2 linked regions of the Homo sapiens genome follow. The protein of the gene in region 2 purifies or fractionates together with the protein of the main gene of each other region. This does not show direct contact. Each region holds a gene or a part of one and is shown on either strand. Other genes may lie near its edges.

Region 1 (3,500 bases), on a different chromosome or scaffold from region 2:
TACCATAAAACTTTATAAACATTGCTTTAGCTTTGATGTTTGGTCACGTTTGTTGTGCAGAAGTCACGTTTCAGGGTAGGTTCACCGCCAGACACGGTCACATCACCATTGGCTGTGGATTTCCAAGAAGCAAAGGAGCCAATCTCAGCAAAGCTCGCACTGGCATTTTTAGCTGCTTAAATTTGAAGAGCAGTTCAGCAAAGCTTGTGCTCCCTAAAATGGAAATGGGGTGGGAAGGTCACATCTCTAAATAAATTCAGCCATACCTCTCCTTTCAAGGAAGCTTCAGAAACACAATCATGTTTAAAACAGGCATTTTTCCCTTTGAAAATGACTATGCAAAGACAATATTTAAAATTATGAAATTCCTTAATACACTGTAATGTAAATTGAGTATCCCTTTTCCAAAATGCTTCTGAAGAGAGGTGTTTTGGATTCTGGATTTTTTTAGATTTTGGAATATCTGCATTACACCTACTGGCTTTCTTTTTTTTTTTTTTTTTTTGGAGACGAAGTCTCACTTTGCCACCGGGGCTGGAGTGCAGTGGCGCTCTCTCGGCTCACTGCAAACTCCACCTCCTGGGTTCACCCATTCTCCTGCCTCAGCCCCCCGAGTAGCTGGGACTACAGGTGCCCACCACCACGCCCAGCTAATTTTTTTTGTATTTTTAGTAGAGATGGGGTTTCAACGTGTTAGCCAGGATGGTCTCGATCTCCTGACCTCGTGATCCGCCCGCCTCGGCCTCCCAAAGTGCTGGGATTACAGGCGTGAGCCACTGCGCCCAGCCTCGGCTGAGCATTCTTAATCCAAAAATCCCAAATCCAAAATGCTGTAATGAACATTTCCTCTGAGCATCATGTTGGTGCTCAAAACGTTTTCGATTTCAAACACTTCAGATTTCAGATTAAGGATACTCAAACCTGTATATGATTTGATAGAATTTACCCATTCTAGACTTCAGAAAGTGACCTATAACTACATGTGAAACTACTAATATTGTTTAATTTTATATATATATATATATATATATATATAAATTCTTTAAATATAATGTGCAAAAGTGCCTGTCTACCTTCAAATACTATCTAAGTGGTATTTTACTGGTTCTAATACAGTTGACCATTGAACAACCCTGTTTGTCCAGCCTGGCCTGAAAAGAAGTCTATACTTTTAAAATGTCTTCCTTTTCCTTTTAGTAGTTTGACTATTAATGTGACTAGGTATGGTTTTCTTTGTATTTATCCTGCTTAGGGTTCACTGTGGGTTAATATTTAACACAATTTTTCAAAATTCTTAGCTTCTGTCTCTTCAAATATTGCTTCTAACTCATTTTTTCTCTCCTCTTATTCTCTTATTCCAACCCCATGCATGTTTATTTTTTTTTCACGGTTTCCACATGTCTCTTGTACTCTTCTCTGTATTTCCTAACCATTCTTCCCTCTGTGCTTCAGTTTGTTTACTTTCTACTTGTCTTCCAGCAGATAAGTGTCTTCCAGTTCACTTCAAATAATCCAGTACTGAGATCTTCATTTCAGTTACTATATTTTTCAGTTCTAGAATTTCCATTTAACTCTTTTTTATTGACCCCAGGTTTCTGGTGAAATTCCCTATCATTCCTTCTATTTTCCTGGAAACATTAGACATAGTTATTTTAAGTTCCAGTATGATAACTCCAATATCTGAATCACACATAAGTCTGTTTCTATTATCTGTTTTTTTATTATTATTATGTTTCGTAATTTTTGATTCAACACTGAATCCTGTAGACTAAAAATTGCGGGGGCTCTGGGTATGTTTTCTTTCTCCTATGAAGGTTACATTTTCTTCTGTCAGGTGGGGAGAAAGCACACAGATCACCTTAGTTCTGCTCTAGGCTAATTGTAGGTCAAGTCTGCTTGGAGTGAAACTGAAGCAGACCAGATCTAAAATTAGGCTAGAGCAGGCTTAGGGCTTGGCCATGTATTAATTCACCTGAGGAGCTGGGATGCTGATCAGAGCCACTTCACTTTAACAAGCGTTGAATTCCACCCTTTGTCTCCTCAGTCCTATGCTGCTGCTGACATTTTTGCTTACATTTTTGGCCTTGTGGCTTCTGCTAGATCTCTTGAAGTCTTATCCCATGTATATGAAGGCTAAAATATCATTAAGTAACTCAAGGGAAAGGTATATCCAGAGTCTGAGTTATGATTTCTATTGTTCTCTCCTGCCTGAGACTGTGTTCCTCAAGTTCTAGGCTCTTGGGCAATCACAAACCCAACCTCTGGCTCCTCAGCCCTGCAGCATTGCTGCTTTTTGCTGGCACTCTACTTCTTGTACTATGAACTGGCAAATGCCTTTGGGGGAGAAGCTAGGGTGAATATAAAGCTCTCCCTGTTGTACTTCCCTTTTCTTATTTTTTTTTTTTAGCTTTTATATTTGTTTTTGAGGGCAAGTGAGTCCAATACAAGCAATTCCATCATGGCCATAACCAGAAGTCTCTAGATAGTAAACTTTTATCAGAGGCTTGCAAAACAGCAAAAAACTAGTAATGTAATTAAACTTCAAGTTTAAATGATTAAATGGAACAATCTTTGCCCTTATCAAAAAATATTTTTTTTGAGAATCTCAAAAAAATTGGGTGCTTAGAATTCATCATATCTTAGTATTCAGCTTAATGGATAAATTTTTTTTATCTGTTTCTATATTCTGAAAAATACAATCAGGTGATAATACTATTAATTTTTAAAACTATTATAAAAAAATTCAAACACAAAATTAGGTATTTATTAGTTGTAAAGCTTTGTAATATTAGAAATTAAGATTATATGTGATTCTAAAAAACCCAACTGAAAACCTAGAAAATAAAGAAAAATAGCTTTAATAAAAAAATCAATTAGTAAAGAATAATATGGAATATTTAGTTTATTAGTATAGATCAGTGTTTGGGGCTCTGTGAAGAAGAATCCATCCTTTTCTGAATAAAAATGAAAGTTATTCATATATAAAGTTGATAATTTTTTCTTTTTTGCTCCAAAACAGTCCCTAACAATGACACTGCAACATTAATGAAGAGGAAAGTCAAACTAGGGGCAGTAACTACTGAGAAACTAGAACATAAAGGGGTAGGTAACAGAGTTACTGAAGATAAGACTTAGATATGCAATTACCTTCTAGTCCTATAGGTGGCAGGTGCTGTGGAGCTGGCACAGAGTGGTAGACGAGGAAGCAGGCCAGCATGCTCAGCTGTGATTCCTCCAAGGGCTGCCCGCTGAGGTAGGCGTGCACACACATATCACCCCCGACTGTGAGAGAAACAAATGGAACGGAACCAACTGATGACAGAACTGAGAGGCACAAGAAATATCTTCTATTACTTTTTCATCAAGAACTTATTGAACGCTCAGCATATATAAAGCAGGTTCTATAGCCGGTATTGAGGCTACTCTGACAAGCTAGACTGAGTCCCTGTCATTGTAGAGTTTAGAGTGTTGTTGGGGGAGACAGATATTACACAAATAAT
Region 2 (5,560 bases):
TCCTGGACCCTGCTGGTGCTCTGTCTCCTCTGCCCCTTCCTAGACAATCACCTTCATTCTTCCAGACCATTCTTTCAGATGCTCTCCCAGCCCCCTCCTATGCATGTCCCTTTCACCTCCAGCCATCCTGGAGTGAGCACTCCCTCCTTGGAGTGCTCCCTCTCTCCCTAGCTCTGCCCTGGAATGCTTACCTGGATCTTGGGCCAGGATAAGAAAGGCTCCACCTCAGAGGGTACAATGCGGAGGTAGAAGATGCTGGGGAGGATGAAGATGAGGCTGGGGGCTGAGGTGGACCCTGGAGAACAAGAAGAAGGGACAGGAGTCAACCTGACTTGGGGACAAGGCCCATATTAGATGGGGTATGGGACTGGGGTGAGGTTTACTGACCGATAACTCCAAAGATATCCCGGATGGTTGGCACACAGATGACAAGGACATTGACCAAAACAAGCAGGATCAGAGCTATGGCCACATGTCGTGGCCAGCTGAAGGCCTTGCCTGGGAAAAGCAGCTGCTGCAGGGCCCGGCGGATCTGTGGCCAGAGTAGGGTGGGACAGAAGTCAGGACCCAAGTGCTGCCCCCCTTCCACGTGATCATCTGTCTTTAGCTCCACCCTCTGGCTGAGATCCCTGATTTCCCCTCCCTCTGACTATCTATGGCTCCACCCTGCCTAACCCAACATCTGTGTCTCTATGTTCTGAACAGGCTTCCTGCCTCCATCCTCTGACAATCCACGTCTCTTCCTTCTGTCTGAACACCCATCGGCACCTGCACCCACTGTCTGAAATCCTTGCCTCCTCCTCTAGCTGACCATCTTTGCCTTCTCCTTCTGTCTGACCATCCACCGATCCTTCCACCCTGTGTGAGCTCCCTGCCTCTCTCCATCTGACCTCTACCTCCCTCCTCTGTCTAATTAGTTCTGCCTCCCCATCTGGGAGACTTGACCCTCCTACATCCCATCACTTCAGCCTCCACCCTTTTTCTGTCCATCCCTGTTTCTTAATTCTACCCTCCAACTGACCCTTCCTGCCTCCCTCTTCTTTCTAGCCATCCATCTGTGCCTCCTCCCTCCAACTGACTACCCTGTCCCCTGACCCTCTCTCTCCTGCTATCTATGTCCTCCCCACTTCTGTTTATCGATTTTTGCCATCTCTGTCCATCTGAAAACGCTGCCCTTTCCTGTCTGTCCATCCTTGCCTCCTTCATCCATCCATCCACTCCTGTTTCCAGCCTTGACCCACACATCCATGCCTATGCCCTCTACCCATCCATCCATGTCCCTCTCAGCCGTGGGCCCCACGCACAGGGAACAGCACGACTGGCACAGTGAGGGTCACCGCGAGCAGCACGGCCAGGCGCACACAGAGGATGAGCGGGTCCTTCTGGCTGTACATGTGCAGCATCTCCGCCTTCACACTGCCTGGGCCATGAGACAGAGGGTACGGGATGCAGGATGTGGAGAGAGCACCAGGACCAATGCCCCAGAAACCCATACATACATGCACAGTGACAAAATCCACACAAGTGAGGCACACCTTCTGTTTGGAAACTGACAGGTCCGTGGTCACAGAAGGAAAGAGCTCAGAGGCTCCTGCCCCAGGCCTTCCCCCTCCCCCCAGCCCTAGCCCCAGCCCCACTCACTGTAGAAGGTGAGGTATCCAAAGGTTGCTGTGAGCCCATACATGCAGAACATGGCCCCAATGGACACGTTGGCCACGGCCTGCATCCTGCGCTTGGAGGGCCTGAGGTGTAGAGGTCGTGGAACTGTCATGCCCAGACCCTGAGACTTGCCCCAGGTCCCTCAAAGCCAGCCTCCACCCTCCAGAGTCCCCTTCTCCCAGACTGCCATTCAGCTGGCACACATGGGGACACCCGTCTCTGCCTCCCCTGTGACTAGCCAAAATCCCCTCTCTGACCATCCATATCTCCCCCGATATGACTGTCTCCCTCTCCCCTGCGTTTGACTGCCACTGCCTCTTCCATCTGACCATCCATGCTGTCCCTCTGTCTGATCATCCACACATCTCCCATCATATCATCCCTGCCTCCGCCTCTGTCTGTCCGTACCTCCCTATCCCCATATCACCAGCCATGCATATCACCCCCTCCATCTGATCATCTGATCTCTGCTTCCCAACTCTGTCCATCCACATTTGTGCTGGATATTAAAATAGGAGAATACTTAAGCCCCAATCAGCAAACAGTCACTACCCTGAGTGCCCCAAGACCTCCTGGCCACCCCAAACCCCTCCCATGACACAACCTAGCTTCCACCAAGTGACAGTCCCAGGACTGCTGTAGGGAGTGTCAGACATTCTGGTTACCACCCCACTTGCTGGCCCATCATTCAGGCCCACTTGCCTGCCCACTCACCGGCAGAGCTCCGTATAGATGGGCAGCACCTCAGGGTGGCAGACAAAAGCAAAAGCCATAATGGGCACTGTGTAGGACATCTAGGGGAATGCCCGAGTACATGGGATTAGAGCCAACAGGGGTCCATCCCCTTCTTCCCATCCCCCTCCCGCCCCGTAATCGCCCTCCATATCAGACACATAGAAGCTCCCAATGTCGAATATCCAGCTCCACTCTGAGCAGGATGCACCATATGACAGAACCAGAGGGCCTGAGTGTGATGCAATCTCCTACATGCCTGCACACACACCTGTGAGTCAACTGTGAACATCTGGGCCTCACAGCTGCTGTTGAGTCCTTGGCTGGGGAGTCCCACGAGAGCTTCACTCTCCATTGCTGTTTCATTGTGGCCTATAGCACAGCCAAGTTGGAACTTCTTGTAGATGACCTGAGGATGGGGGCAGCAGGGAAGCCAGGTCATGGAGGAAGCTATGTCCCAATGTCCCAAACTCTCTCCCCGCTTCTCTGTGACTCACCGAAACAAGGAAAAACAGCATGCAGGTCAGAGAGAGACCACTGGTGTACCCCAGGTAGCCTAAGAGGGGCAAAACACAGAGTCTCAGAAATCAGCCAGGCGTGGTGGCTCACACCTATAATCCTAGCGCTTTGGGAGGCCTAAGCGGGTGGATCACCTGAGGTCAGGAGTTCGAGACCAGCCTGGCCAACATGGCAAAGCCCCATCTCTACTAAAAATACAAAAATTAGCTGGGTGTGGTGGCGCATACACCTGTAATCCCAGCTACTCGGGAGGCTGAGGCAGGAGAATCGCTTGAACCGGGAGGCAGAGGTTGCAGTGAGCCAAGACCACGCCATTGCACCACTCCAGCCTGGGTGACAGAGTGAGACTCGGTCTCAAAAAAACAAAACAAAACAAAAAAATCAATGGACCCCCGGAACAGTGAACTCCAAACACCTAGTCTAGCCTTCAAGGTCTACCCACCCCAGTTACCTTTGCATAAGCTTCTACTTCCACCCAGAAAAACCTCCCCTCCATAGCAAACTCCTACTAATCTGTTCAAGCCCACATCAAATAAGCTCTCTCCTAGTGTGCTGCAGCCCTTGAAAATGAATGGGGGTTTTCTCAGTCTGGCTTCTTCTGTCTAATCCCACTACCCAATGGCCAACCCAGGGAGCCTCTTACCCAAGTGTTTCATGAGGGCGAGGGGCAGGATGATTAACACACTGACGATGATGATGAGGAGGTTTCCCTTCAAGAACCAGTCCCTAGAGAGACAGGAAGACACAGTGCCTAGCTGCCAGCCAAAGGAAACTGTCAGGCAGACACTCACAGAAGACAGCTGGACAGGCAGCTTTCTGCCCTAAGTCAGGAGAGTTAAGCTGACAACCTCAGCTTGAGAAGTCATTCAGGTGGTCACAGTGACAAACGGCACAATAGGGTTGACAAAAACAGTCAAGCTGATTATGAGATTGTCAGATACTATCAGTGGGACACAGCTAACACATACACAGCTGGACAAAACTTGCCATCAGACTTCGCAAGTGGTTGCACAACCAGAAGGTCAAACACCCCAAATCAGTCAGACTCAATGTAAAAATCAGTCCAGGCCAGGTGTGGTGGCTCACGCCTGTAATCCCAGCACTTTGGGAGGCTGAGGCGGGTGGATCACCTAAGGTCAGGAGTTTGAGACCAGCCTGGCCAACATGGTGAAACCCTGTCTCTACTAAAAATACAAAACAAATTAGCCAGGCGTGGTGGGGAGTGCCTGTAGTCCCAGCTACTCAGGAGGCTAAGGCAGGAGAATGGCATGAACCCGGGAGGTGGAGCTTGCAGTGAGCCGAGATCACGCCACTGCACTCCAGCCTGGGCGACAAAGGGAGACTCTGTCTCAAAAAAATAAATAAATAAATAAATAGCCAGGTATGGTGGCGCGTGCCTGTAATCCCAGCTACTCGCGAGGCTGAGGCAGGAGAATCACTTGAACCCAGGAGGCAGAGGTTGCAGTGAGCCAAGATCGCGCCATTGCACTCCAGCCTGGGTGACAGATCAAGACACTCAAAAAAAAAAAAAAAAAGGAAGAAAGAAAGAAAAAAAAGAAGGAAGGGAGGAAAGAAAGAGAAAGGAAGAAAGAAAGAGAGAGAAAGAAAGAAAGAAAGAAAGAAAGAAAGAAAGAAAGAAAGAAAGAAAGAAAGAAAGAGAAAGAAAGAAAGGAGAAAATCAGTGCAACACAAGGTGCCAGACACAAAGAGAGTGAGTCACGATCGTGGTATGTCTGACAGGTAGAGCAACAGTCTGATGATCCAGTAGACAAGCCACGATGCAGAGTCCATCAAAAAGTCAGAAACACACATGCATGCTTGTTTGAACAGCTCAAGGTTTGTTGGATGCCTGAAAGTATGCCTGTGGACTGATTTGGCTGCACAGCCAAAGAAAGACTGAAATAGAAACGAAATCATCCAGCTGGCCACACTGTTGGAACCAAGCTCTGAGAAAAGGTGGGATCTGTACAGATATTGGAGGAAGGTGACCAGGCAAGACAGTCAGTTAAGACAGAATCAGCTGAACAACTGCTCATGCATTCAAAACAACTTGATTGAATGCCTATGTTCTAGACATTCACATGGTCTCTTTCTATCTCATATACAGTTACACAGAAATAAACCAATGGGAGCTAACTATAATAATGAGACATCTCTGGTCACACTATCAGCTATCTAGTGTTCTCAGAATCAAACCAAAAATCTAAAAGGATACACACAGAGAGTAAAGATCAAGCACTCAGTTAAAATTGTCAGACTGGCCGGGTGTGGTGGCTCATGCCTATAATCCCAGCACTTTGGGAGGCCAAGGCAAGCAGATCACCTGAGGTCAGGAGTTCAAGACCAGCCTGGCCAACATGGCAAAACCCCGTCTCTACTAAAAATACAAAAATTAGCCGAGCATGGGGGCTGAGGCAGAAGGATGGCTTGAACCTGGGAGGTGGAGGTTGCAGTGAGCCAAGATGGCGCCACTGCACTCCAGCCTGGGCAACAGAGTAAGACTCTGTCTCAAAAAAATAAAATTAAAAAATTAACCGAGCATGGTGGTGCATGCCTGTAATCCCACCTACTCAGGAGGCTGAGGAAGGAGAATCGCTTGAACCTGGGAGGCAGAGGTTACAGTGAGCTGAGATCGTGTCACTGCACTCCA

The links. The genes of interacting proteins can lie anywhere in the genome.
Region 1: the proteins of SLC38A5 (region 2) and ANAPC1 purify together in Homo sapiens (affinity purification with mass spectrometry; one large-scale study listed by BioGRID and IntAct). This does not show direct contact.

What each region holds. Positions count from the first base shown.
Region 1 is NC_000002.12:111,769,194-111,772,693, forward strand, and holds part of ANAPC1 (anaphase-promoting complex subunit 1), read right to left. Parts: intron 3,283-3,500; coding exon 3,148-3,282; intron 1,942-3,147; exon of another isoform or gene 1,868-1,941; intron 214-1,867; coding exon 98-213; 3' UTR 1-97. UniProt on the Homo sapiens protein: Component of the anaphase promoting complex/cyclosome (APC/C), a cell cycle-regulated E3 ubiquitin ligase that controls progression through mitosis and the G1 phase of the cell cycle.
Region 2 is NC_000023.11:48,459,345-48,464,904, forward strand, and holds part of SLC38A5 (sodium-coupled neutral amino acid transporter 5), read right to left. Parts: intron 3,637-5,560; coding exon 3,554-3,636; intron 2,948-3,553; coding exon 2,889-2,947; intron 2,801-2,888; coding exon 2,663-2,800; intron 2,454-2,662; coding exon 2,374-2,453; intron 1,743-2,373; coding exon 1,642-1,742; intron 1,421-1,641; coding exon 1,305-1,420; intron 533-1,304; coding exon 388-532; intron 296-387; coding exon 192-295; intron 1-191. UniProt on the Homo sapiens protein: Symporter that cotransports neutral amino acids and sodium ions, coupled to an H(+) antiporter activity. Releases L-glutamine and glycine from astroglial cells and may participate in the glutamate/GABA-L-glutamine cycle and the NMDA receptors activation.